Homo sapiens: one gene and its partners. The protein of the gene in region 1 interacts with the protein of each later gene in a biochemical or structural test. Each region holds a gene or a part of one and is shown in the gene's direction. Other genes may lie near its edges. The genes, in order: BAG6, SGTA, AMFR and USP13.

Evidence for each region.
Region 2: the proteins of BAG6 (region 1) and SGTA form a complex in vitro, tested with the Homo sapiens proteins (4 studies listed by BioGRID, with this or other methods).
Region 3: the proteins of BAG6 (region 1) and AMFR form a complex in vitro, tested with the Homo sapiens proteins (2 studies listed by BioGRID, with this or other methods).
Region 4: the proteins of BAG6 (region 1) and USP13 form a complex in vitro, tested with the Homo sapiens proteins (one study listed by BioGRID).

What each region holds. Positions count from the first base shown.
Region 1 is NC_000006.12:31,638,494-31,642,671, reverse strand, and holds the end of BAG6 (large proline-rich protein BAG6), read left to right. Parts: intron 1-268; coding exon 269-560; intron 561-726; coding exon 727-896; intron 897-1,079; coding exon 1,080-1,133; intron 1,134-1,249; coding exon 1,250-1,352; intron 1,353-1,443; coding exon 1,444-1,568; intron 1,569-1,733; coding exon 1,734-1,880; intron 1,881-1,967; coding exon 1,968-2,027; intron 2,028-2,143; coding exon 2,144-2,287; intron 2,288-2,365; coding exon 2,366-2,473; intron 2,474-3,025; coding exon 3,026-3,172; intron 3,173-3,445; coding exon 3,446-3,541; 3' UTR 3,542-3,644; downstream 3,645-4,178. UniProt on the Homo sapiens protein: ATP-independent molecular chaperone preventing the aggregation of misfolded and hydrophobic patches-containing proteins.
Region 2 is NC_000019.10:2,759,271-2,766,314, reverse strand, and holds part of SGTA (small glutamine-rich tetratricopeptide repeat-containing protein alpha), read left to right. Parts: intron 1-1,029; coding exon 1,030-1,129; intron 1,130-2,557; coding exon 2,558-2,662; intron 2,663-3,670; coding exon 3,671-3,809; intron 3,810-4,792; coding exon 4,793-4,855; intron 4,856-7,020; coding exon 7,021-7,044. UniProt on the Homo sapiens protein: Co-chaperone that binds misfolded and hydrophobic patches-containing client proteins in the cytosol. Mediates their targeting to the endoplasmic reticulum but also regulates their sorting to the proteasome when targeting fails.
Region 3 is NC_000016.10:56,415,546-56,422,545, reverse strand, and holds part of AMFR (E3 ubiquitin-protein ligase AMFR), read left to right. Parts: intron 1-7,000. UniProt on the Homo sapiens protein: E3 ubiquitin-protein ligase that mediates the polyubiquitination of lysine and cysteine residues on target proteins, such as CD3D, CYP3A4, CFTR, INSIG1, SOAT2/ACAT2 and APOB for proteasomal degradation.
Region 4 is NC_000003.12:179,761,005-179,768,048, forward strand, and holds part of USP13 (ubiquitin carboxyl-terminal hydrolase 13), read left to right. Parts: intron 1-107; coding exon 108-251; intron 252-2,997; coding exon 2,998-3,164; intron 3,165-4,690; coding exon 4,691-4,844; intron 4,845-7,044. UniProt on the Homo sapiens protein: Deubiquitinase that mediates deubiquitination of target proteins such as BECN1, MITF, SKP2 and USP10 and is involved in various processes such as autophagy, endoplasmic reticulum-associated degradation (ERAD), cell cycle progression or DNA damage response.

The sequences.
Region 1 (4,178 bases):
AAAGATGAAGAAAATGAGGTTTAGAAAAAGAAAGTATAGTAATTAGTGTCACTGCTTTCTGACAGCCTGTTCAGAGGAAGAGGTAGGTAAGTTGTGCTGCCTGACTCTGTTAAATACCTACCATACTTCTGCTTTAAGCAGTGAAGATCAGAATGTAACTCCCCATCTTCCCAGACCCGTTGGTTTGTGCCCTCTTGATGCCGTATTATTTCCGTGTGTCTTCATTCTCACCTCACTTTCTGTTCTTTGTTCTTTCTTTATTTGCCAGGCAACACAGACAGCCCCTCCACCACCCCCACCTCCTCCACCCCCACCACCTGCCCCAGAGCAGCAGACCATGCCCCCACCAGGCTCCCCTTCTGGTGGCGCAGGGAGTCCTGGAGGCCTGGGTCTTGAGAGCCTGTCACCGGAGTTTTTTACCTCAGTGGTGCAGGGTGTGCTCAGCTCCCTGCTGGGCTCCCTGGGGGCTCGGGCTGGCAGCAGTGAAAGTATTGCTGCCTTCATACAACGCCTCAGTGGATCCAGCAACATCTTTGAGCCTGGAGCTGATGGGGCCCTTGGTGAGCAAAAAGGATGCTTTGGCTTGCTCCAGGAAGGGGCAGCCAGAGGAATGTAGATGGCCTTGGTTTAGGGGTGTTGCCAAGGTGGGATGAGGTTGATGATCTGGTTGTGGGTGGGCAGGCCAGGTGGTAAAGGCCATTGCTAACATCTGCCCTTGTCCCCCAGGATTCTTTGGGGCCTTGCTTTCTCTTCTGTGCCAGAACTTCTCTATGGTGGACGTAGTGATGCTTCTCCATGGGCATTTCCAGCCACTACAACGGCTCCAGCCCCAGCTGCGATCCTTCTTCCACCAGCACTACCTGGGTGGTCAGGAGCCCACACCCAGTAACATCCGGGTAAATGAAGGCCAGGGGCCCCAGAACTCTCCTCTTTTGCACATTTTATTCCTTATTTCTGACTGCTTCTCTGCCAGGTAAAGCTCCAATTGCCCCCACACAAGCCCTGGACTTGTTGGGGTCGAGGTGGAAGTCTTGGGAGGACTGAGGCTTTGAACTAAACCTGTTCTGTTTCCTCCACAGATGGCAACCCACACATTGATCACGGGGCTAGAAGAGTATGTGCGGGAGAGTTTTGTGAGTAACCCTTCTCTATTCCTTTCCTCTCCTGGGTCTGGTCAAGGCAGCTGCCTCCTCCACTCCCAGTCTTATGATTCTTGATTTTGGGATCTTTGTGTTATCTTGTCTCTCAGTCCTTGGTGCAGGTTCAGCCAGGTGTGGACATCATCCGGACAAACCTGGAATTTCTCCAAGAGCAGTTTAATAGCATTGCTGCGCATGTGCTGCATTGCACAGGTCAGGGGCTGGCCAGGCGGGGGCAAGTGGGGCCTGTTGCATGTGCAGGGCTGCCACGTGCCAGCATTCCCTCCTTGTATTTTGCCCACAGATAGTGGATTTGGGGCCCGGTTGCTGGAGTTGTGTAACCAAGGCCTGTTTGAATGCCTGGCCCTAAACCTGCACTGCTTGGGGGGACAGCAGATGGAGCTTGCTGCTGTTATCAATGGCCGAATTGTAAGCACCACCTAGCCCCAGATCCTTAGCCTTTTGTTTCCTGAGGTTTCCATTCTCTGCAGTTTTCATTTTTCTTTTCTAAACTGACATTCTGTAACCTGGATCTAATCTATTTCTAAAGGTGGTTGAGGGTTTTGTGTTCTAAATCTGCTTTCTGTCCCTCAGCGTCGTATGTCTCGTGGGGTGAATCCCTCCTTGGTGAGCTGGCTGACCACTATGATGGGACTGAGGCTTCAGGTGGTACTGGAGCACATGCCTGTAGGCCCTGATGCCATTCTCAGATACGTTCGCAGGGTTGGTGATCCCCCCCAGGTAAGGGACCTGTTGGGCGATGGGGTCAGGGTACTTGAGAGAACTGGAGAGATCTGAGAGGAAGTATGGTGTTCTTTAATTTCACAGCCACTTCCTGAGGAGCCAATGGAAGTTCAGGGAGCAGAAAGAGCTTCCCCTGAGCCTCAGGTACTCTAGAGAGGGGGAGGTTGAGGGGCCAGATAATGTGGAGTGGAGGGCTGGGGGAGAAAGGTTTGGAGGCTAAAAATTCTGAAGCCTGGCTCTTCCCGCCATCTGACACCCAGCGGGAGAATGCTTCCCCAGCCCCTGGAACAACAGCAGAAGAGGCCATGTCCCGAGGTCCACCTCCTGCTCCTGAGGGGGGCTCCCGGGATGAACAGGATGGAGCTTCAGCTGAGACAGAACCTTGGGCAGCTGCAGTCCCCCCAGTAAGTGTCAGGAAGTAATCCAGTGGGTCATGGCAGCTGAAAGTCAAGGACATTACTATTTTCTCTTTTCCTCCCCAGGAATGGGTCCCTATTATCCAGCAGGACATTCAGAGCCAGCGGAAGGTGAAACCGCAGCCCCCTCTGAGTGATGCCTACCTCAGTGGTATGCCTGCCAAGAGACGCAAGGTTGGTTTTCCTCTTCCCTAAGCCTCTCTCTCTATCCAGGTTTCCCCGTCATGCCTGGAATCAAACTATGTAGAGATGGTGGGAGCTCTTGTTATTCAGTCTCCCCTCCCCTCGTTTAATGAGGAAACTTTTTCTGGGATTCAGACTTGCTCTTGGTTGTTGCATAACCATACAGGACTTGACCTTAGTCTGTTTGCTAGCAGTCCTGTATTAGTTGCTCAGCTGCCTAATCCCCATGTGCTTAGATCCCATTTTCCTTTAAGGTGGGTTTCCTCTTGTGGATTACCTAGCTCTGAATCCCGGATGGCTTGACCCCTTCTGCCTTTCGTTTTGAAGAGCACGTTCAAGCACATTCACTTTAGTTTTGGCTAGTGCCAAAGAGAATTAGGAAGGCATTTCTGCTGTAAAAACCACATCCTGGACTCTTAATTTCCCCTCTCTCCACTAGCATGGAGACTCAGTGGAGTGGTTGACTCATGGAAAGGGTGAGCCGGATGGTGGCACTGGATCTGACGTTGATCCTCTTTTCCCTCCCAACCCCCTGTCCCCCAGACGATGCAGGGTGAGGGCCCCCAGCTGCTTCTCTCAGAGGCTGTGAGCCGGGCAGCTAAGGCAGCCGGAGCTCGGCCCCTGACGAGCCCCGAGAGCCTGAGCCGGGACCTGGAGGCACCAGAGGTTCAGGAGAGCTACAGGCAGCAGGTGCCACCTTGAAGCAGAATAGGGATGGTCTAGTGGGAGGGGTTGGGCTAGGGTCCCTCTTCCCTGGATCCCTTCAGCGATGAACTGGTCAGCCTGGTGCTACCATTTGTTTTCCCCTTTGGCATCTGGGAAGGCTTGACAGTGCCACCCCGGGCTATTTGACAGTGTGCTTGGGGGGGGAAATGTTAGCTTCTGAGGGATGGCCTTGTGTGCTTGCTGGGATCATGGGGACTTGGCCAGCGTTTCTCCAACCTGCTTACTTTTTCTCTTTAGCTCCGGTCTGATATACAAAAACGACTGCAGGAAGACCCCAACTACAGTCCCCAGCGCTTCCCCAATGCCCAGCGGGCCTTTGCTGATGATCCTTAGCTCTTTGCTCTATGGCCCTTCCTCATCAGGGGACCGTTTCCCCCCTCTTCCTTCACAGTATTTAAGAAATAAAAGTCGGATTTTTCTGGCTGCTTTCTCTCTACATTGTCTCCATTAGGTAGTGTGTCCCTTAATCTTGTGTGAACTTTTTTAAATTAATACTTCCTTGGAACACTGTTGTGTTCTACTCAGCACGCTAAATTGTACAAGCCAGTTTTGATGTTTGTTTTTTTTTTTTTTTGAGACAGAGTATTGCTGTCTCCCAGGCTGGAGTGCAGTGGCCCGATCTCGAGCTCGGCTCACTACAACCTCCACCTCCCGGGTTCAAGTGATTCTCACTCATGCCTCAGCCTCCTGAGTAGCTGGGACTACAGGCGTCCGCCACGACGCCCGGCTAATTTTTGTATTTTTAGTAGAGACAGGGTTTCACCATATTGGCCAGGCTGGTCTCGAACTCCTGACCTTGTGATCCACCCGCCTTGGCCTCCCAAAGTGCTGGAATTACAGGCGTGGGCCACCGCGCCCAGCCTGATGTTTGTATTTTTTGTGCGAAAGCACTTTATATATAAATAAAAAACCTGTATTTTGAGTTGGGAGCATATTCCAGGTGCACACTAGCATAGAGCTCTCAAATTAC
Region 2 (7,044 bases), on another chromosome or scaffold:
CCCCAGCGCAGATGCACCGTGAAGACATCACACTCAGGGAGAGAGGCCAGACACAAAAGGACGCACAGCATGTGATCCCATTTCTTTTTTTTCTTTTTTGAGATGGAGTCTCGCTCTGTCGCCCAGGCTGGAGTGCAGTGGCGTGATCTCGGCTCACTGCAACCTCTGACTCCCTGGTTCAAGCAATTCTCCTGCCTCAGCCTTCTGAGTAGCTGGGACTACAGAAGCCTACCACCACGCCCGGCTAATTTTTGTATTTCTAGTAGAGACAGGTTTCACTGTGTTGGCCAGGATGGTCTTGGTCTCCTGATCTTGCGATCCGCCTGCGTCGGCCTCCCAAAGTGCTGGGATTATAAGCATGAGCCACCGCGCCCGGGCTTATATTTTTAAAGCGTAAGCTTTGTGGCATGTAAATTATATCTCAATAAAACTGTTTAGGGAAACACACGCTGATACCCATCTTCCCCCCACGCCCTCCTGAATTGGGATCTCGGGGGCGGGAGTGGGTTTCTGTCTTCAGGGCTCTCAGTTCTAGGATAGCAGCTGGGGTTTTTACCGTCCTACCAGCTGGGACCCATGCCTCAGATAGAAGCCCCATTGCCTATGAAATGAGAAGGTATCACATGAGTATTCCAAAATACAGGCCTCCACTTGGGCTCTTTCCAAAAGCAATAGCGAAAGGGACAGTTTCCGTCCCCGGGCCGGTGAGCTGTATTAACTGTTCTGCTCCCGGGGTCGCCATCCAGGCAGTGACAGCCACCGTCGCCAGGCACAGGCCAGGCCAGGCCCTGCCGCCCCCACCTCCATCCCCCTTAGTGGATGTAGATATGATTGTTTGCGACTAGCGAACCCCCTATAGATGCAGATGCCTCCTGAGCCGGCATCTGTGTTGAGTCCTGGCTGCCCAGAAGAGCCAAGTGTGACGCCCCCTCGGGTCTGTGTGGACACCAGGCCGGTGTTTTCCTCTCTCCCTGACACCCCCTCCGGTCTGTGTGGACACCGGGCCGGTGTTTTCCTCTCTCCCTGTAGGAAACGAGCAGATGAAAGTGGAAAACTTTGAAGCTGCCGTGCATTTCTACGGAAAAGCCATCGAGCTCAACCCAGCCAACGCCGTCTATTTCTGCAACAGGTACCAGCTCAGGGCCTGCCCAGGGCAGGGGCGGCCGGGTGCGGGGGCGTCCTCCGGGATGCTTAGCAGGGACCTGAGATGGGAGAGGCCTCTGCGCTGTAGATGAGGGATCCATTCACCGGTGGTCTCAGACCAGGAGCGAGCATCAGGTGACCAGCAACGGGGTCGGGGAGAGTCGATGCTGATTTAAAATCAGGTAGCACGCCCAGCACTCTGGGAGGCCATGGGGGAAAGATCACTTGAGGCTAGGAGTTCGGGACTAGCCTGGGCAACATATCAAGACCCCCGTCTCTACAGAAAATGTAAAAATTAGTCTGGGGGCCAGGCGCGGTGGCTCACGTCTGTAATTCCAGCACTTTGGGAGGCTGAGGCGGGGGGGATCACTTGAGGTTGAGAGTTCAAGACCAGCCTGGCTAACATGGTGAAACCCCGTCTTTACTAAAAATACAAAATTAGCCGGGTGTAGTGGTGGGCACCACCAGTTACTCAAGAGGCTGAGGTATGAGGATGGTTTGAACCTGGGAGGCAGAGGTTGCAGTGAGCCAAGATTGCGCCACTGCCCTCCATCTTGGGTGACAGGGAGACTCTGTCTCAAAAAAACCCCGAAAAAAACCACAAAAATTAGCTGGATGTGGTGGTGGGTGCCTGTAGTCCCAGCTACCTGGGAGGCTGAGGCAGGAAAATCACTTGAACCCGGGAGGCAGAGGTTGCAGTGAGCTGAGATCGTGTCACTGCACTCCAGCCTGGGCAGCAGAGCAAAACCCTGTTTCAAAAATAATAAATACATAAATACATACATAGAAAATCAGGTATCATGGCATTCCACGTGGATGTCAAGCCAAGAAAATAATCCAGTATGTGGAGGGTTGTGTTTTTTGAATGTGTGGTCTTGGATCTGCTTCAGGCTTACAGGACAGTTGCAGAGGCAGTGCAGGGTTCCTGGCCGCCTGTCATGGGGTAGTTTAGTCTCCACTCACTCTTCTCTGTACTTTGAAAAAATTGTAAAGAGAAACACTAAACACGAAAATGGTGAAGACGATTCAGACGCTGTAAGCCAAGAGCTTTGAGCTTTGACATTGGTCTGAGTTCTTTTTTTACTGATATGTAAATAATTTGTGAATGAAACTTGGGTATAAGTTCCCTACCCTCATTGCTCTTGTACAGCCATGGATCGGAACATTTTTTGCAAATAAAATTCAGAGTCGCAGTCCTGAGTGGCTGCTGGTGCTTTGAGCCCACATTTGTCTAAGAGCATCTCAGTGGCCACACCTCTCAGCTTTCCCCATCAGCCCCATTTTACAGATGGGGAAAACTGAGGCCGTTCCTCCAGGAAGTTGGAGAGGAACGCAGCTCTCAGGCTCCCCTCAAGGGCTGCCCGCTGGGCTCAGAGCCGCCAGTGAGGGACCTGCCCTGCCTTTTCTTCCCCAGAGCCGCAGCCTACAGCAAACTCGGCAACTACGCAGGCGCGGTGCAGGACTGTGAGCGGGCCATCTGCATTGACCCGGCCTACAGCAAGGCCTACGGCAGGATGGGGTGAGTGCCTGTCCACGGCCGCGCCTTTCCAGTCTCTCGGGACCCCTCCTCTCCTGCTCCTGCTTCCTCTCTTGTGTGGCTTTTTTCCCACCCACAACGAATTCTCCCACCCCGGTTCAGTTCAACTCTGACACTAGCTGTTCGGAGCCAACGTAGTCCCTACAGGTCACAGGCTCAGCCCCACAGACGCCCCGCATCAGGTGCCACCCGGAGATCCCTGGGCCCCTTGCTTCTCCCTGACTGGCTGTCACCTGGGGTTCCCATGGCTCCTACTCAGGCTCCATTGTTTGCTGGGGCGGCTCACAGAGCTCAGGGAAGCACCTGGTTTATGATGAAGGACACAGGACAGGTCCGAGAGTGAGGCCAGGAGGGTCCCCGGGGCAGGAGCCTGCGCCCCGTGCAGCCGGTGCCGCCCTCCCAGCATAAGCGTGCATTCGCCTGCTTCTCTGAATGCCCTTGCTCAGAGTTTGTGGGATTGGGTCTCCCCAGAGGCTGGGGAGGGGCCCTGTTCAACTGCCCAGTCTCCCCAGGACCCGCCTCCTCCTGGGCTCTGTAGGGGCCCTGAGTCACCTCACGAGTGAAGACTCACTCAGGTGGGGGTCAGGGGCTGCTTGTGGATGACGGGAGACATGTCTGTCGCTCAGAGGTTCCGAGGGTCCTTGGTGCCCTGTGCCGGGAAGCGGGGCCAAGACAACATCCACGCATTTCCTGTGACCCTGAGCTGGCCCGCTCCCTCCTCTCAGCCCGCTCTGGGCTTTGAGGCCCTGTGTGTGGCCCCATGGGGACTCCAGTTCTTGTGTGGCAGGGGTGTTCTCATGTCTGTCTCCCTCAGTCCTGCCCCTGGGCCCCTCGAAAGCCAGGTTTGTCTCCACTGAGCTGACAGCGGGCAGGGGGTGGCACCATCCGAGGTGGTTTGGGGGTTGCCAGGACCGCCGGGGACGAGGGCTTTGGCGGGGCCTCCTGGAGCTGGGCAGATGGGAACAGTCCATCCCCGGTGCTCTCCTCCAGCCTGGCGCTCTCCAGCCTCAACAAGCACGTGGAGGCCGTGGCTTACTACAAGAAGGCTCTGGAGCTGGACCCCGACAACGAGACATACAAGTCCAACCTCAAGATAGCGGAGCTGAAGCTGCGGGAGGCCCCCAGCCCCGTGAGTGCAGCGGGGGCGAGTGGCTCCAGAACGCCGAGCTGACTGTGTGGGTGGGGGACAGGTCCTCGGGCGCACCAGTGGCTCTAGGCTTAACCTGGGTGTCGTGAGGGTCCGGGGTTTGTTTCAGTTGGTGGTGAGATGCACAGGCGTGGAAGTGAGTGTCGTGAGAAGGTTCATGCCCCCAGACCCCTGGAAGCAGGAGGCCGGCCGCAGGGCTGCCCGCGGAGGCTGAGGGAGGGGCACAGAAAGGACCCTCGATGTGGGTTTTGTGGCGAGGCCGGGTGAGGAGGCTTCGGGTTGGCTGGTTGGAGCCATTTCATTAGACCCAGGCCTGGGGGCTGCCCCTGGTTGCCTGGTCCCTGGCCTGGGGGTGAGTGGGGCAGGTGGACTGTGGCCCTGGGGTGATGGGGGAGGTGCTGAGGGTGTGGGTTCTGGGTTAGTTTGTTTGTATTTCAAAGGTGCGTTTCTGGGTGAGTCATTTGCTTTCTCTGGGAATTGGCTACTCCAGGAGGGGGCGGCTCTGCCAGGCCAGCAAGGCCCCAAGGTGTCAAAGCGGCAGAATACAGGAAATCAACACGGGATGATAGACTGTGCCGTCCCCGGGCGGTCGCGCTGTACGGGGAATAAACACGGGATGATAGACTGTGCCGTCCCCGGGCGGTCGCGCTGTGCGGGGAATAAACACGGGATGATAGACTGTGCCGTCCCCGGGCGGTCGCGCTGTGCGGGGAATAAACACGGGATGATAGACTGTGCCGTCCCCGGGCGGTCGCGCTGTGCGGGGAATAAACACGGGATGACAGACTGTGCCGTCCCCGGGCGGTTGCGATGTGCTTCGTGCTGCCTGCCTCAAAGCACCCTCTGGCCGCAGGGTTGATAGAATGTCTGAGCCCCGTGGGGGGCCGTTGTTTCTGAGTTCCAGGGGGTTATTCACCGTGGCCTCTGGTCCAGGCCCCACTAACCAGGGCTGTTCTCATCCTCAGACGGGAGGCGTGGGCAGCTTCGACATCGCCGGCCTGCTGAACAACCCTGGCTTCATGAGCATGGTAACGGCCCGCCCCTCCTCCCTGTCCATGGTGTCTGCGCCACCCCCCAGGCCCGCATCTGCTGTGTCCGCTACTGGCCAGGGCTTCCTTGCCTTGGCACTGCTGGCTTCTGGAACCAGATGGGTCTTGTCTGTGGGGTCGTCCTGGGCACCGCAGGGCGCTGGCAGCACCCCTGGCCTCACCCGCCCCATGTCAGGAGCACCCCCACCCTCTGCTTCGACAATCAAAAGTGTCCCCAATGTTGATGTCCCAAGCAAGACCCATCAGTAGTGAGCACCAAAAGCTGGCTCTCCTGGCTGAGCCCAGGGAGGTCACACCCCCACCCCACCCTGGCGTGGGCTCCTCCTCGCAGTGCAGAGACACTGATCACAACACAGCAGCGTCTGCCTCCTAAGGTTCAGGCAAGGGAAGCAGAGCGCCGGGTGCGCCGGGCGCAGGTGGACCTCCCGATGCCCGGGCACTCATGCTTCCAAAGGGACGGCCTTTGGCAGGGAGTTCCTTGACTGGGATCCTCGGAGAGCCATCCCCCACACACACATGTTCATTTCCTGGGAGGTCTGTGTGCCCTGGGACCACTCTTCAGGCTCCCACAGCCTCAGGGTACAGGGACTCGCCTAAGGCTGTCGGGGAGAAAAGCCCTCAGTCTCACTGTCAGTCAGAAAAATGAGCCAGCTGGGCCAGGAGCCCTGCCCGGGTCGTGCCATTCAGCAGAGGCCACACCTCTTACTGTAGCCCTCGTCCGCTGGCCAAGCTGCCAGGGGAATATGTTCTCCCTCACCATGGGATGGAGGGTGACTGGGCCCCAGTCTTTCAAGGGGCCTCTCAGCTTGGCCATGTCACAGACGCCTTTTCCCTTCAGACATCTGGGGTTGGCAGAATAAGGCCCGCCGCTGGGTTTTGTTAATAAAGTTTTTTTTGGTTTTTTTTTTTTTTTTTTTTTTTGAGATGGAGTCTCGCTCTGTCGCCCAGGTTGGAGTGCAGTGGTGTGATCTCAGCTCACTGCAACCTCCGCCTCCCAGGTTCAAGCGATTCTCCTGCGTCAGCCTCCCGAGTAGCTGGGATTACAGGTGCCCACCACCATGCCTGGCTAATTTTGGTATTTTTTAATAGAAATGGGGTTTCACCATGTTTGCCAGGCTGGTCTCGAACTCCTGACCTTGTGATCCACCCGCCTCGGCCCCCCAAAGTGCTGGGATTACAGGTGTGAGCCACTACACCTGACCAATAAAGTTTTATTGGCACACAGCCATGCCCATTCATACACCTAGTGTCACTGGTGGCTTTCATGATACGGCGGCAGAGCTGAGTAGTTGCGTCAGGCACCCGTGTCTGAAAAGGCTGAGAGTATTTACACACTGGCCCTTTACACAGAGAGTTTGCCACACCTCTGAGCCACCTCCTTTCAACAGGTCCAAAGGAATAATCCCAAGTGGAAAGTTAACATGAGAAAGTGCCCAGTATAGTGCTATTTATTTATTTATTTATTTTTACTTCTTTTTTGAGACAGAGTCTCACTCTGTCACCCAGGCTGGAGTGCAGCGGTGTGATCTCGGCTCACTGCAACCTCCCCCTCCCAGGTTCAGGCGATTCTTGTGCCTCAGTTTCCCAAGTAGCTGGGACTACAGGCATGCACCACCACACCTGGCTAATTTCATATTTTTAGTAGAGACGGGGTTTCACCATGTTGGTTAGGCTGGTCTCGAACTCCTGACCTCAAGCGATCTGCCTGCCTCGGCCTCCTAAAGTGCTGGGATTCCAGGCGTGAACCACCGCGCCCAGCCACAGTGCTATTTATTGATAGAGCAAAACTGGAACCAAATATGCTAAATGAAATATGCTAAAGCAGACAGCAGCTAAAATAAAGAACCAAAACGCCTCCACACAGCAAAACCGCAGCAGCCAGTGAGAGAGCGCTGTGGCGCTGCGAGATCGCTCCTGAAGCAGGAACCCAAAACAGGATTTAAGTCACAATGTGGAGGTCACAGCTCGTGGGTGGGGGGGCGAAAATGTAGGGAAAAGGGTATGAAAGACCGAATGCCCGGCTCTTACTGTTGGTTGGCGTGCTGGAGTCCAGAACCAAGGCTGGTTAAGATGGAAAGTGTCTGATGAAAGAGAATGATGCGCTGGGAGCTTTGTCTTCCTGACAAATTTGTTCTGTTCTTCAGGCTTCGAACCTAATGAACAATCCC
Region 3 (7,000 bases), on another chromosome or scaffold:
CCGGAAGCTGGGCTGTTAAATTAAAAGTCTGTTGAATCTTCTGATTTAAGAGGGAGGTTGAGAAGGTGAAGAGGAGACCGGGGGTGAAGGAGGTGGGGAGGAGGTGAAGGAGGTGGGGCAGGTGGCTCTGCTGTGAGAGGAGGAGGTGAGCAACCCCCTTGAAGGTTTCTTTCTCAAAATGTGGACCTCTGGCATCCTGGTATGTGGTCATCTGGGGTACTTGTAAAATGTAGTTTCCCTGGGGATCCATTTCAGAGAGAAGGGTGGAGCCTTGGAATCTTCATTTTAATGAATGCCCTAGGTGATTTGAGGAACACTAGTGGTTGAAAAACTGACCTAGGAAGAGGCTAGAGTGTGATGTCATGTAACCTTGACCTTGCTTGCTCTACCAAGTGTGGACAGTATTTTGTGGAGTGAGAGAAGCCATTGATGGGGCTTAAGTGGGGGTGGGGCATGGAGGAGTGGGGGTGCTGGCATGATTTCTTTTAGAAGATTGGGAGCAGTGTGGAAGATAGATTTATGTAGAGTGGGAAGAGGACGGGAGATCTAGTGACCTAAAACTTCCTCCTCCCAAGGGGGCCTCTCCAGGTGGCCCTCAGGCATGACATTGAGAAAGGATTTGGGAGGAGACTTCAGGGTTTTTACACTAACAAATATGTGGGTTTGACCTGAGAATTTGTTTCTCCTTGTCTTTCTAAAACTTCCATCCTAAAGTTTCATTTCAGATGAGTTTTTATTTTGTTACTCATTTCTGGGCTATTTTACATTGCTCAGATAATGCTTCCATTCAGCTACCTCTTGGTCCATTCTAGCATGGTTTTGGATTGTTCAGGTGTTTTGGCTTTTTCATTTTTTAATTCTTACTCATTACTTTTATTAGTTCCCTTTTCTGCTTTCTTAAATATCTGCTTCTAAAATTCTAAGAGCAAGATACGTGAATGGAGAAATAGAAATATGAAACTAATGTCAAGGTTCTGACTTAATTATGCAAATAATATCATTTAAATAGAACTCTCAAGGGGAAAAATGACCACAAACAAAAGTGGATAAAAGTGAATTGACCATTTAGAACAGGGATTGGCAAACTCGTGACCTATTTGACTAGGCCTGTTTTTGTCTTAACAGCTAAGAATGGTTTTTATATTTTTAAAGGGTTGTAAAACAAATTAAATAAATTAAGGAAGTTGCAGAGCCTAAAATATTCACTATCTGAGAGCACTTTAGAGAAAAATTGGCTGAATCCTATTTTAAAGAGCCGATTTTCGTATTATTATAAAACTTAAGGGCTGGGTTCAGTGGTTCACACCGGCAGTCTCAGCAGTTTGAGAGGCGGAGGCTGAGGCAGGAGGTGGAGGATTGCTTGAGGCCAGGAGCTGCCCAGGAGTCTGGGCAACATAGTGAGACCCCCTGCTCTACCAAAAAAAAAAAAAAAATTAGTCACCATTATAATTATGTGAAAATAGGCTTTTTAAAATAAGAGTCAGCCAATTTTTCTCTAAAGTGCTCTCAGATGGTGAATATTTTAGGCTCTGCAACTTCCTTATTTAATTTGTTTTACAACCCTTTAAAGATATAAAATACCTGCTTCTAAAATTCTAAGAGCAAGACATGTAAATGGAGAAATAGAAATATGAAACTACTGTCAAGGTTCTGACTTAATTATGCAAATTAAGTGTAGTGGCCTGTGCTGTAGTCCTAGCTGCTTGGGAGGCTGAGGCAGGAGGATTGCTTGAACCCAGAAGCTCAAGGTTACAGTGAGCTATGATTGTGCCACTGCACTGCAGTTTGGGCCAGAGTGAGACTCTGGTCTCAAAAAAAAAAAACAAAACAAAATTAAGAGCTGAAAGTGACTTCCTAGGTTTTAGTCTTTATGAGTTGACTATTTCAAGGTATATGAGGGAAAAATGTTAGCTCCAGAAATGTTGGGGCAGCTGAAGGAAAAAAGACTAAACTTGTGAATAATTGGATGTGAGCCTAGATAAATTAAAAATAAAAGGAATGTCTTCCAGGTGAGGGAGAAGGGGACTGCTATTTGATCACCTCCTAGGTATGCTTTGCGTGCGGACTCTCGTCTATTTCCCTAGTCTTGTTAAAGAAGGAACACAGTTATCATCTATGTGATGAAGGGGAGTGTGTGCATGTTTGTATTATGTGTTTGTTTCTGGGAGCCTGCAGAGAGGTAACAATACGTGAATTGTCCTTAAAGGGAGGAAACCACCAAATGGTAGGGGGCGCAGGGGAGTGGTGCTGGTGTAGGCAGGAGTCTAAGAAATATCCAGATTGACCATGTCTTGGAATAGGTTCCTAGTAGTTTAATCCCATGTCTTTGCAAGGTCATAAATAAGCACCTGTTGGTGGCCAACATTTTACAGGGTCAAAAACACCTGTAGGGTTACATGGTGATAAATGCACCTTCCTCTCTTTTTCTCCCAGGCAGGCCTAACTATTTTATAATTTAGTTTCTGTTTTCTCCAGTAGAAGAGTAGAACCATTCTGGAAGGGACATTTTCCTGCTGGGCCTTGGAGTGAAGGGAATTAACTTTGAGCCTTGAGTAAGTCAGGGTTGCTGGGATCACTGCTGCCTGACCTGCTACACTCTGAACGGGGACAAGTAAAACTTGTTTTTATTTTGTGTAGACTGGAAAAAAAAGGCATTTGGTGAGTTTTTAAAAAATGACTTGAAGCTTTGACAGCACTATAGCTATGAGAAACATTCTGAAGTGTTTTAATATAGTTGAATTTTTTTTTTTTTGAGTCAGAGTCTTTCTCTGTCGCCCAGGCTGGAGTGCAATGGCACAATCTCGGCTCACTGCAATCTCCGCCTCCTGGGTTCAAGCAATTCTCCTGCCTCAGCCACCCAAGTAGCTGAGATTACAGGTGTGCACCACCATGCCCAGCTAATTTTTTGTATTTTTAGTAGACACGGGATTTCACCATGTTGGCCAGGCTGGTCTTGAACTGCTGACCTCAGGTGATCCACTAACCTTGGCCTCCCAAAGTGCTGAGATTACAGGCATGAGCCACCACGCCTGGCCATAGTTGAAATACTGTGCTGTAACAGGAGAACTTGTTTTGGTTTGTTACTCATCAGTTTGTCATCATATGGTGAGAAAAATAATGTGGAATTGCAGAACTAGTCAGGTTAGTTTAGTAGATTCTAAACTTTAAAAAAATTTTAAAAAATAGATAATGCATGCTCAGGGTACAAAAGTTAAGGGGTACAGGCCTGGCATGGTGGCTCACACCTGTAATCTCAGCACTTTGGGAGGCCGAGGTGGGAGGATCACCTGAGGTCAGGAGATTGAGACCAGCCTGACCAACATGGTGAAACCCGTCTCTACTAAAAATACAAAAATTAGCCAGGCATGGTGGCAGGTGCCTGTAATCTCAGCTACTTGGGAAGCTGAGGCAGGAGAATCGCTTGAACCTGGGAGGTGGAAGTTGCAGTGAGCCAAGAATGCGCCGCTGCAGTCCAGCCCGGGCGACAGAGTGAGACTCTGTCTAAAATTAAAAAAAAAAAAAAAAGTTAAGGGATACAGAAGTGACATGCAGTGAAAAGTAGATCTCTCTCTCTCCCTGTTACCTGCTTCTCTCTTCCAGAAATGGCAATTATCAAATTCTTGTAATAAGTACTGTTGTTAAGTAGGAGACTAAGAAATACCCAAATTGATCAAGTCCTTGACAGTTCACACCTACATATTATACAAACGTGTGTGCACATATTTCCTTTTTTTTTTTGAGACGGAGTCTCGCTCTGTTGCCCAGGCTGGAGTGCAGTGGCGCGATCTCGGTTCACTGCAAGCTCCGCCTCCCAGGTTCACTCCATTCTCCTGCCTCAGCCTCCTGAATAGCTGGGACTACAGGCGCCCACCATGTGCCCGGATAATTTTTTGTATTTTTAGTAGAGATGGAGTTTGACTGAGTTAACCAGGATGGTCTCGATCTCCTGACCTCGTGATCCGCCCGCCTCGGCCTCCCAAAGTGCTGGGATTACAGGTGTGAGCCAGTGCGCCTGGCGTTTTTTTGTTTTTTGTTTTTTTTTGAGATGGAGTCTCACTCTGTCACCTAGGCTGGAGTGCAGTGGCATGATCTCGGCTCACTGCAACCTACGCCTCCCGGGTTCAAGCGATTCTCCTGCTTCAGCCTCCTGACTAGCTGGGATTACAGGAGAGCACTACCACCCCTGGCTAATTTTTGTATTTTTAGTAGAGATGGGGTTGCACCATGTTGGTCAGGCTGGTCTTGAACTCCTGACGTCGTGATTCTCCCTCGTCAGCCTCCCAAAGTGCTGGGATTACAGGCATGTTCCACTGTGCCTGATTCAGGGATTTATTTTATTTTAGTTTACTTTTTTTAAGCAGTTTTTTTTTTTTTTTTTGAATCAGAGTCTCACTCCGATTGCCCAGGCTAGAGTACAGTGATGCTATTTGGGCTTATTGCAGCCTCAACCTCCCTGTGTCTAGGGTGATTCTCCCACCTTAGCCTCCCAAGTAGCTGGGACTACAGGCACACACCACCATGCCTGGCTACATTTGTTGTGTTTTTAGTAGAGATGGGGTTTTGCCATGTTGCTCAGTCTGGTCTCGAACCCCTGGACTCAAGCAACTCACCCACCTTGGCCTTCCAAAGTACTGGGATTATAGACATGAGCCAGTGCTTTTAAATGAGGAATGCTCCAGTTATGTTTCTTTCAGTATAGGTTGAGAATACTTTATCCAAAATGCTTGGGACCCGAAGTTTTGGATTTGGGATTTTTTTCCTGGATTTTGGAATATTTGCATATACATAATGAAATATTTTGGGGATGGGACCCAAATGTAAACATGAAATTCCTCTGTTTCATATACATCTCATTCATACACATACCCTGAAGGTAGTTTCATTTTTCCCTTAGGGACACTGAGTAAACTGTTGTAAGTCTGCATTTTGACTGCGACTCGTCACATGAGGTCAGGTGTGGAATTTTCCACTTGTGACGCCATGTTGGTGCTCAGAAAGTTTTGGATTTTGGAGCATTTCAGATTTTGGATTTTTGCATCAGGGTTGCTCAATTGTATTTACAATTTTTCAAGCCTTTGTTAACTGAAGTTGAGAAGTTATATGTATGACACAATATTATTTATTTATTTATTTGAGACAAGGCCTCACTATGTTGCTCAGGCTGGAGCAGTACAGTGGTGCAATCACGGTTCCCTGCAGCCTTGACCTCCTGGGCTCAAGAGATCCTCCCACCTCAGCCTCCTCAGTAGCTGGGACTACAGGTGCACACCACCCCACCCGGCTAATTTTTGTATCTTTTGTGGAGATGGGGTTTCACTATGTTGGCCAGGCTGGTCTTGAACTCCTGAGTTCAAGCAATCCCCCCACCTTGGCCTCCGAAAGTGCTGGGATTATAGGTGCGAGATACTGTGCCAGGTCAGTATTTGTAATTAACATATAATCATTATAATTAAGGTATTTTTCTATAAATAGACATGGAATAGTTATTAATAATCATTAAGGTGTTTTAAAAAACTTTGCTTATAATCTTAAAATAAGGATTGCTTTCAATCCTTTGTAGCTTTGGTTACAAAGTTCACAACAGCTTATCTACTTTTTACATAAATTCCCTTTTTAGTATCAGTATACTCAGACTTTTTTTTTTTTTTTCCTGGTTAGCCATGTTAATTTTCAAATCTTCATTTAAATTAAAATAGGAAGTGGTTGTTCTATGGGTGATGGGATTATAAGAGACTTTTACCTTTTTTTGGATAAATTAAAGATACACATTTTTTATACCTTATTTGAATTCAAAGACTTATTTAGGCTGGGCGCAGTGGCTCATGCCTGTAATCCCAGTACTTTGGGAGGCCGAGGCAGACGGATCACTTGAGCCCAGGAGTTCGAGACCAGCCTGGGCAGCATGGTGAAACCATGTCTCTATAAAAAAATTCAAAAATTAGTGTGGTAGCTCACACCTGTAATCCCAGCTACTTGGGAGGCTGATACAGGAGAATAGCTTGAACCTGGAAGGCCGAGGTTGCAGTGAGCGGAGATTGCACCATTGTGCTTTAGTTTGGGCAACAGAGTGAGACTGTCAGAAAAAAAATAAATAAATAGACTTTTATTTAAAGAGTTTGAGAAATAGTAAATAATACTTTATTTTTTATTTGATAACTTAAGATGTGTGTGACAGTACTGTTTTGAATAGAGAAATGTTTAAGTGACCCTAAATTTGTTTTTTTTCTCCATCATTACTCTCGTAGTAGCCTGCTTGGCCTTCTGTTAAATTGCTTACCATGCTCTATCTCTTGTAGATTCTAAAAGCTCTTTGAGTTTAGGGTTCAGAGCTCCCTCATTTTTCTGATTTCCCACATGCCTCGAACAAGTGCTAAATGTGTTGCATTTATTTTTTAAATTCATATGACTGACTACATGTAAAAACGGGAAGAATTATTTTAAGAAATTGCGTCGTAATAAAGCTGGGGCATGTTTGGCTGGGGGATGTGACATGAGGGGTTGTGGTTTTGTCTTATGACATTTCTCTTAGTTAATGTGGCTGAGATTGGTTAGATCACAATGAAGGTGAGTCTTTTTAGCATCTATTTCATCACCTTAAAAATGAACATTTCAAGTTACCTGAATTGTTTTTTCTTTTTAAAAAATTTTATATATTTTTCAGTAGGGGCAAGGTTTTGCTGTGTTGCCCAGGCTGGTCTCAAATTCCTGGCCTCAAGCAGTCCTCCCACCTTGGTCTCCCAAAGTGCCAGGATTACAAGTGTGAGCCACCATGCTCCTGGTGATCTGGACCATTTTGAATAGGTCTGTTACACAGATTAGGATATTTGGGGCAACTAGTTTGGGCGTTTGTTCCTGGTTGTTTGAAGGATTTAAGTACCAAAACAGTTTATTTCTTTAGCAGAACTATTTTCGTTTCAATCCTTTAAAAATGTATTACATACTTCCTTGGCCCATTAGGCAGACAGAATAGAACTAAATTTAATCATTTGTAATGAATCAG
Region 4 (7,044 bases), on another chromosome or scaffold:
GAATAGCACTTTCTTTGGGTAGCATGTGGATAGGAGAGTGGAGAGTAGCTAAGACAAGAAGCGACAGTTTCCTCTTTCACACTAGAATATCCTGTTGTGCTCTGTAGCATCAGACATCGATGAGTCATCAGTGATGCAGCTGGCCGAGATGGGTTTCCCGCTGGAAGCATGTCGCAAGGCTGTGTACTTCACTGGAAATATGGGCGCCGAGGTGGCCTTCAACTGGATCATTGTTCACATGGAAGAGCCAGGTAGGTGGCGAGAAAATGGAATGGCTTTGGAGTCTGATGTGACCCTCAGTGATGCTGAGTCCTGGTCCTTCCAAGGTCCCTGTGGATGTATCCCTAGAAAATGACTTTATAGTTCCTAATCTCCTGCAGTGGAGGAGAAAGCCAGTCTTTTTCTTCTTCTTTTTTTTTTTAAAAACAGCAGCTTTAGGCCAGGCGTGGGGGCTCATGCCTGTAATCCCAGCACTTTGGGAGGCCAAGGCAGGCGGATCACGAAGTCAAGAGATGAAGACCATCCTGGCCAACATAGTGAAACCCCATCTCTACTAAAGATACAAAAATTAGCTGGGCATGGTGGTGCGTACCTGTAGTCCCAGCTACTCAGGAGGCTGAGGCAGGAGAATCGCTTGAACGCAGGAGGCGGAGGCTGCAGTGAGCCAAGATTGCACCACTGCACTCTGGCCTGAGTGACAGAGCGAGACTCTGTCTCAAAAAAACAAACAAACAAAAAAACAACAAAAAAAACCCCAAACAGCTTTATTGAGATATAATTCATCCCTTTAAAGTGTATAAGTCAGTGGCAAAAAGACCAATAGAAAGATACGGGATATACTTCTAACTAAGCGATGATGAAAATTTGAAATGGAAACATGGGCATGAAGAAATGGAGGATGTTTAGTTAGCTTTTTCTTTTATCTACTTTATTAAGCTATAATGCATATATTCATCTGTTTAAAGTGTACATTTCAATGGTTTTTCATAAATTCACAGTTGTGTAACCATTACCACTATCAAATTTTAGAACATTTTGTACCCTTCAAAAGAAATCTCATACATAATAGCAGTCACTCCCCATTTTCCTGCTCACCCCAGCCCCTGGCAACCACGAATCTGTTTTCTGGATCAAGGGATTTGCCTGTTTTGGACATTTCATATAAATGGAGTCATATAATAAAAGGTCGTTTGTGTTTGGTTTCTATCACTTAGCATAGTGCTTTCAAGATTCATCTATGTTGTAGCATGTGTCAGTACTTCATTCCTTTTTACGGTAAAATAATAGTCTGTTGGGTCGGGTTTGGTGGCTTACGCCTGTAATCCCAGCACTTTGGAAGGCCAAGGCAGGAGGATCATTTGAGGTCAAGAGTTCAAGACCAGCCTGGCCAACATGGTGAAACCCCATCTCTATTAAAAATGCAAAAATTGTCTGGGCATGGTGGCGGGCACCTGGAGTCTCAGCTACTTGGGAGACTGAGGCAGGAGAATTGCTTGAGCCCAGGAGACGGAGGTTGCAGTGAGCTGAGATCACGCCACTGCCCTCCAGCCTGGGCAACAGAGTGAGACTCCATCTAAAATAATAATAATAATAACAATAATAATAGTCTATTTTATGGGTATACTATATTTTATTAATCTTTATCAGTTCATGGACATTTGGGTTATTTACATTTTTTGGCTTTTATGAACAATGCTGCTATAAACATTTTTTACAAGTTTTTGTGTGGATGGACATTTATTTTTACTTCTCTTGAGTGGAATTGCCATGTCATATGGTAACTCTATATTTAATTTTGAGGAACGACCAAACTGTTTTACACAGTGGCTGAACCATTTTACATTTCCACCAGTAATGAATGTGAGTTCCAATTTCTCCATATCATCACTAACCCTTATTATTATCTTTTTTATCATACCCATCCCAGTGGGTATGAAGTGGTATCTTGTGGTTTTGGTTTGCATTTTCCTAATGACTAATGATGTTGAACAACTTTTCGTATGTTTATTGACTGTATATCTTATTTGGAGATATGTCTATTCAAATTCTTTGCCCATTTCTAATGAAGTTATCCTTTTATTATTGAGTTCTAAGAGTTCTTTACAAATTCCAGATACGAGTTTCTATGAGATATATGATTTGTGTTTTCCCCCCCATTCTGGTGTTTTTTCACTTTCTTGATGGTATCCTTTGAAGCACAAACATTTTTAATTTTGATGATGTCCAATTTATCTTTTTTTTCTTTTATCACTTGTGCTTTTTGTGTTGTAAATAAGAAACCATTGCCTAATCCAATGGCAAAGACTTACTCCTGTGTTTTCTTCTAAGATTATTATAGTTTTAGCTCCTATATTTAGGTCAATGAGCCATTTTGAGTTAATTTTGTGTATGATGTGAGGTGAGGGTCTGACTTTATTCTTTTGTATGTGGATATCCAGTTGTCCCAGCATCATTTGTTGAAAATAATGTCCTTTCCCCACTGAATGGTCTTGTTGAAAATCAGTTAACCACAGGTATATGGTTTTATTTCTGGAATCTCAATTCTATTTAATCGATCCATATGTCTGCCTATATACCAGTACCAGACTGTCTTTTTTTTTGAGACAGAGCCTTGCTCTCTTGCCCAGGCTGGAGTGCAGTGGTGCAATCTCAGCTCACTGCAACCTCCGCCTCTTGGGTTCAAGCGATTCTTGTGCCTCAGCCTCCCAAGTAGCTGGATTACAGGTGTGCACCACCATGCCCTGCTAATTTTTGTATTTTTAGTAGAGACAGGATTTTGCCATGTTGGCCAGGCTGGCCACGAACTCCTGACCTCAGGCGATCCACTCGCCTTGGCCTCCCAAAGTGCTGGGATTACAGGCATGAGCCACTGCGCCTGGCCCAGACTGTCTTGATTATTATAACTTTGTAGAATCATGTTTTTCCTTGTTAGTGTTGTTTCAGGACAAAAAAAAAAAAAAAAAAAGGAAAAGACTTGGGTGTGGTTATTTTTCTCAGATTTTGCTGAGCCGCTGACCATGCCTGGTTATGGAGGGGCAGCTTCTGCTGGAGCCTCTGTTTTTGGTGCTTCTGGACTGGATAACCAACCTCCAGAGGAAATCGTAGCTATCATCACCTCCATGGGATTTCAGCGAAATCAGGCTATTCAGGCACTACGAGCAACGGTGAGCATGAGAGACTGTGTGTGTGTGTGTGTGTGTGTGTGTGTGTGAATTTATTTCTGTAGCAGTTGAGACTTTCCAATGTACTTTGATCATTTTGATTCATGTTTGATTCATCTAACTGTGAATCTCATCATAGCCCATAAAGATTTATTTGCATATTATAAATATAAAGCTAAAATGAATGATTTTCACACAGCGAATGAGATAAATAAATCTGGGGTAATATGAGCAAACTGAAAGAAACTTGATATCATCTTGAATGTTTGTTAACAGGGGGTCAGAAATTTGACTTGGAGGCTGCTTGTGGCCCTAGAGGAAAGAGGGATGCATGAAATTCCATGTTCAGTAAGAAGTCCTTTAGGAGATAGAATGCTTTTCTGATACCAAGACCTTGGGTAAATGTCTCTTAAAAGTCCTCATAGAAAACTGAATGGCTCCTTGGAATTCTCTGCTGCTGTTTCTCTCTGCAGAAAGAGAAGGTTCTTCTGGTAGCCATGAACTTCTTGATACCAAGAAACAAGGGACTCTGAAACTACAGGGTAGACAATTCCCTTCTGCAGTGCTGATATCTGTTTAATCTTGAGGGAAGGTACTTAAAAAACAAAACAAAACCCATCCTTCCTGGTCACACCATAATCCATTTTTGAGTAGATATCTGCTCTCAATTACTTCTTGCCTATCCTGATGGGGTGCCTGCTAGGATCCGTTGCTGAGGTCACAGTGGCTCTTGATTGTCTCATGAGGATGTGGCTAGGACAACCTGTCTCCCTTTAAGATGATTAAAATATCTCAACCAGAGTTTGTTTTACTTGGGGTACTTTCTTGTGCTCCACTCATTTTATTTGCCTGACTGTTTCATTAGAGGTTTTATATCTATACAAATTCTTTAACCTGCCAGAAATATCACAAGCTGAGAAAGATGGAAATATTTTTATGGTCAATTAGTTTGAAGTACATGGAGTTCAGTTTAAACAATTATACTTAACTAATCAGTGTTGTTGTCATTAATCAAGATATTAATCTTGTCTTTACTGGAATTCAAACATTTTACCAACATTCCAGGAGAGAAGGCTCTAACATAATACCACACTGGCATCCCTCTATTGTTCAGTTATCTGCAGAAAATACAGTTGGTAGAGAAGGTAGTGTGTGCAATTAAAGTGGCTTTAGAAAGAGCTGCACTTAAACAAATGCCATACCCTTGGTTATTCCACACCTATTATTATCAGCATCTTCCTGCAGAAAAGCTGAGCTAACATTGATATAAACTTTGGAATGCTGATCTGCTGCTTAGAACTCTTTTCCAGTGAATCCAATTACAGATGTCAGCTGGGAGACTTGCAGAATGCCATGCCAACTGAACGTGCCTGTCATGCGGAGTCAGAGCTTCTTACTCAGTGGCACTTAGGACTAATTAATTCAGACCTCCTTCCCTATCTGCCTGACATCTAGTTGAAATGGTCAGGACATAGTGAGGCCTGAGGCTGCATGCATTGTAAAAACATCTGTTTCTTTTTTGTTGTTAGAATAATAACCTGGAAAGAGCACTGGATTGGATCTTTAGCCACCCTGAGTTTGAAGAAGACAGTGATTTTGTGATTGAGATGGAGAATAATGCCAATGCAAACATTATTTCTGAGGCCAAGCCCGAAGGACCTAGAGTCAAGGATGGATCTGGAAGTAAGTTCTTGCCTTAGAGGCTGTCTGAGCAGTCAGAACTATACGTTCAGCTCATGCCCTTCCCTCCCACCACAACATAGTCAAGCCTTTGCCATCATTCAAAAGTTAGCACAGATCCCATCTTCTTCGTTTTTTTTTTTTTTCTTTTTTGAGACAGAGTCTCACACTGTTGCCAGGCTGGTGTGCTGTGGCGCGATCTCGGCTCACTGCAACCTCCGCCTCCCAGGTTCAAGCCATTCTCCTGCTTCAGCCTCCCGAGTAGCTGGGATTACAGGCATGTGCCACCACACCCAGCTAATTTTTGTATTTTTAGTAGAGACGGGGATTCACCATGTTGGCCTGGCTGGTCTTGATCTCCTGACCTCGTGATATGCCTGTCTCGGCCTCCCAAAGTGCTGGGATTACAGGCATGAGCCACCATGCCTGGCCAGATCCCATCTTCTTAGAAATGGTGCAGTTTGCCACTTTGCATAGGCCCCGGTGATCTGATAAAGTCATGTCAGAATCATGTTGCTTGGTCATGTTTGTGCCCAAGTTTAGGGCCAACTTTGATTTTGTCTGTTCCTTTGAGGTAAAATTTCTTCATGGACCATGGGAGCTTTTGTCAAAAAGAGAACATTTGTTTTCATGGTAGTGTTTTTTGAGTAGTAGCAAAGTGGTCTCATCCTTGATCATATCGTTACCCGTACCAACTACTAATAATATCCTGAAGGGGTGTCTCAGGATGACAGGAAGAGGCGCCATAGGCCGTTGTTCTGCCTTTTAATAGCAAACACTTATGTATGTCACTATGTGCCAGGCACTGTTCTAAGCACTTTGCATATCAACACTCATGTAATTCTCACTACAACTGATTTTACAGGTGAGAAAATATAAGCATAGAGAGCTTGGGTACCTTGCCAAAGGCCACACAGCTCTTAAGAGATGGAGCCAAGATTCAAACCCAGAATCCTTGTTCTTAACCTTTGTGATATCCTGTTTCTTGGGCTGTCATTGCCTGTAGAATAACATTCAGGCTCTTTAGCTTGGCATTCAGCACCTCCTCCAGTCAGATCCAGGCCACCTGGTCTCCCAGTGTCACTTCTATACTCCCTATACCTGCAGCTGAGATGCCTGGGACTGTAGCCACACTCTTAGCCTACTCAGCTGTCAACAACTCTCTTCTCACTTAACCTGCAGACTCAGGTTAACCCCTATTTGTGAAATGAGCCTTCTCTCCCATCACTGCACACTAAAATTCTCATCATTATTTAGAACTTGGCCACAGATTCCATTTCTCTGGACTGCCTTCCTAGATCCTTGTCATAATCAGCTCATGCTTACCTCATATGCTAGCAATAATTATACCAGTATGAAAAATACTCCCATTTGTGCCATCTTTAATCCTCACAGTAACCTTATGAGGTACATACCATTATTATCCCCATTTTACAGGTGAAGAACCTGAGATAGAGAAGGCTAAGTAATAGCTTGTCAAGGTCTCATAGCTAGTGATGGATAGAACCACAATTCCAGTGCAGGCAGTCTGCCTCCAGAGCCTGTGCCTGTAGCCACTGTAATGCATTGTTAGTTTTTTTTGGTTTTTTTTTTTTTTGAGACAGAGTCTCACTCCATCACCCAGGCTGGAGTGCAGTGGCACGATCTTGGCTCACTGCAACCTCCACCTCCCAGGTTCAAGCGATTCTCCTGCTTCAGCCTCCCGAGTAGCTGGAATTACAGGTTTGGGCCACCACGCTCCCTTGTTAGTTCTTCTGTTGTTGGAGGTATCAAGTTGATCTTGCAATAAAATTACTTCTGTAGGTATTTGTGTCTCCCATTTGACTAGGAGCTTGCCCAGGGCAGAGGCCATTTGGCTTTTATAAAACTCATGGTGTCTAGCATGGTGCTAGACACATAGAAAGTACTGAGTAAATAACAGTTGTATTTAACTAAATCTACACTAGCAGCATTTGTTCCTATAATCATATAGTGGCAGATTTACTCATTAATGTTCTTTCCAGACCTAACATGTACGTATTCATATACAGATAGAAAGAGACGGTGGGAGGGAACTGTCTTCTTCTTTTTTTTAATATAAAATAGGAATTTCATCACTGAAACTGTTTCAATGCCAACTGGATAAGAAAGGATGAGATGTCGTTCTCCCAATTTCCATACTCATTTAAAGTATCTGGTATTACTTTTCAGAAATTACTAGCTT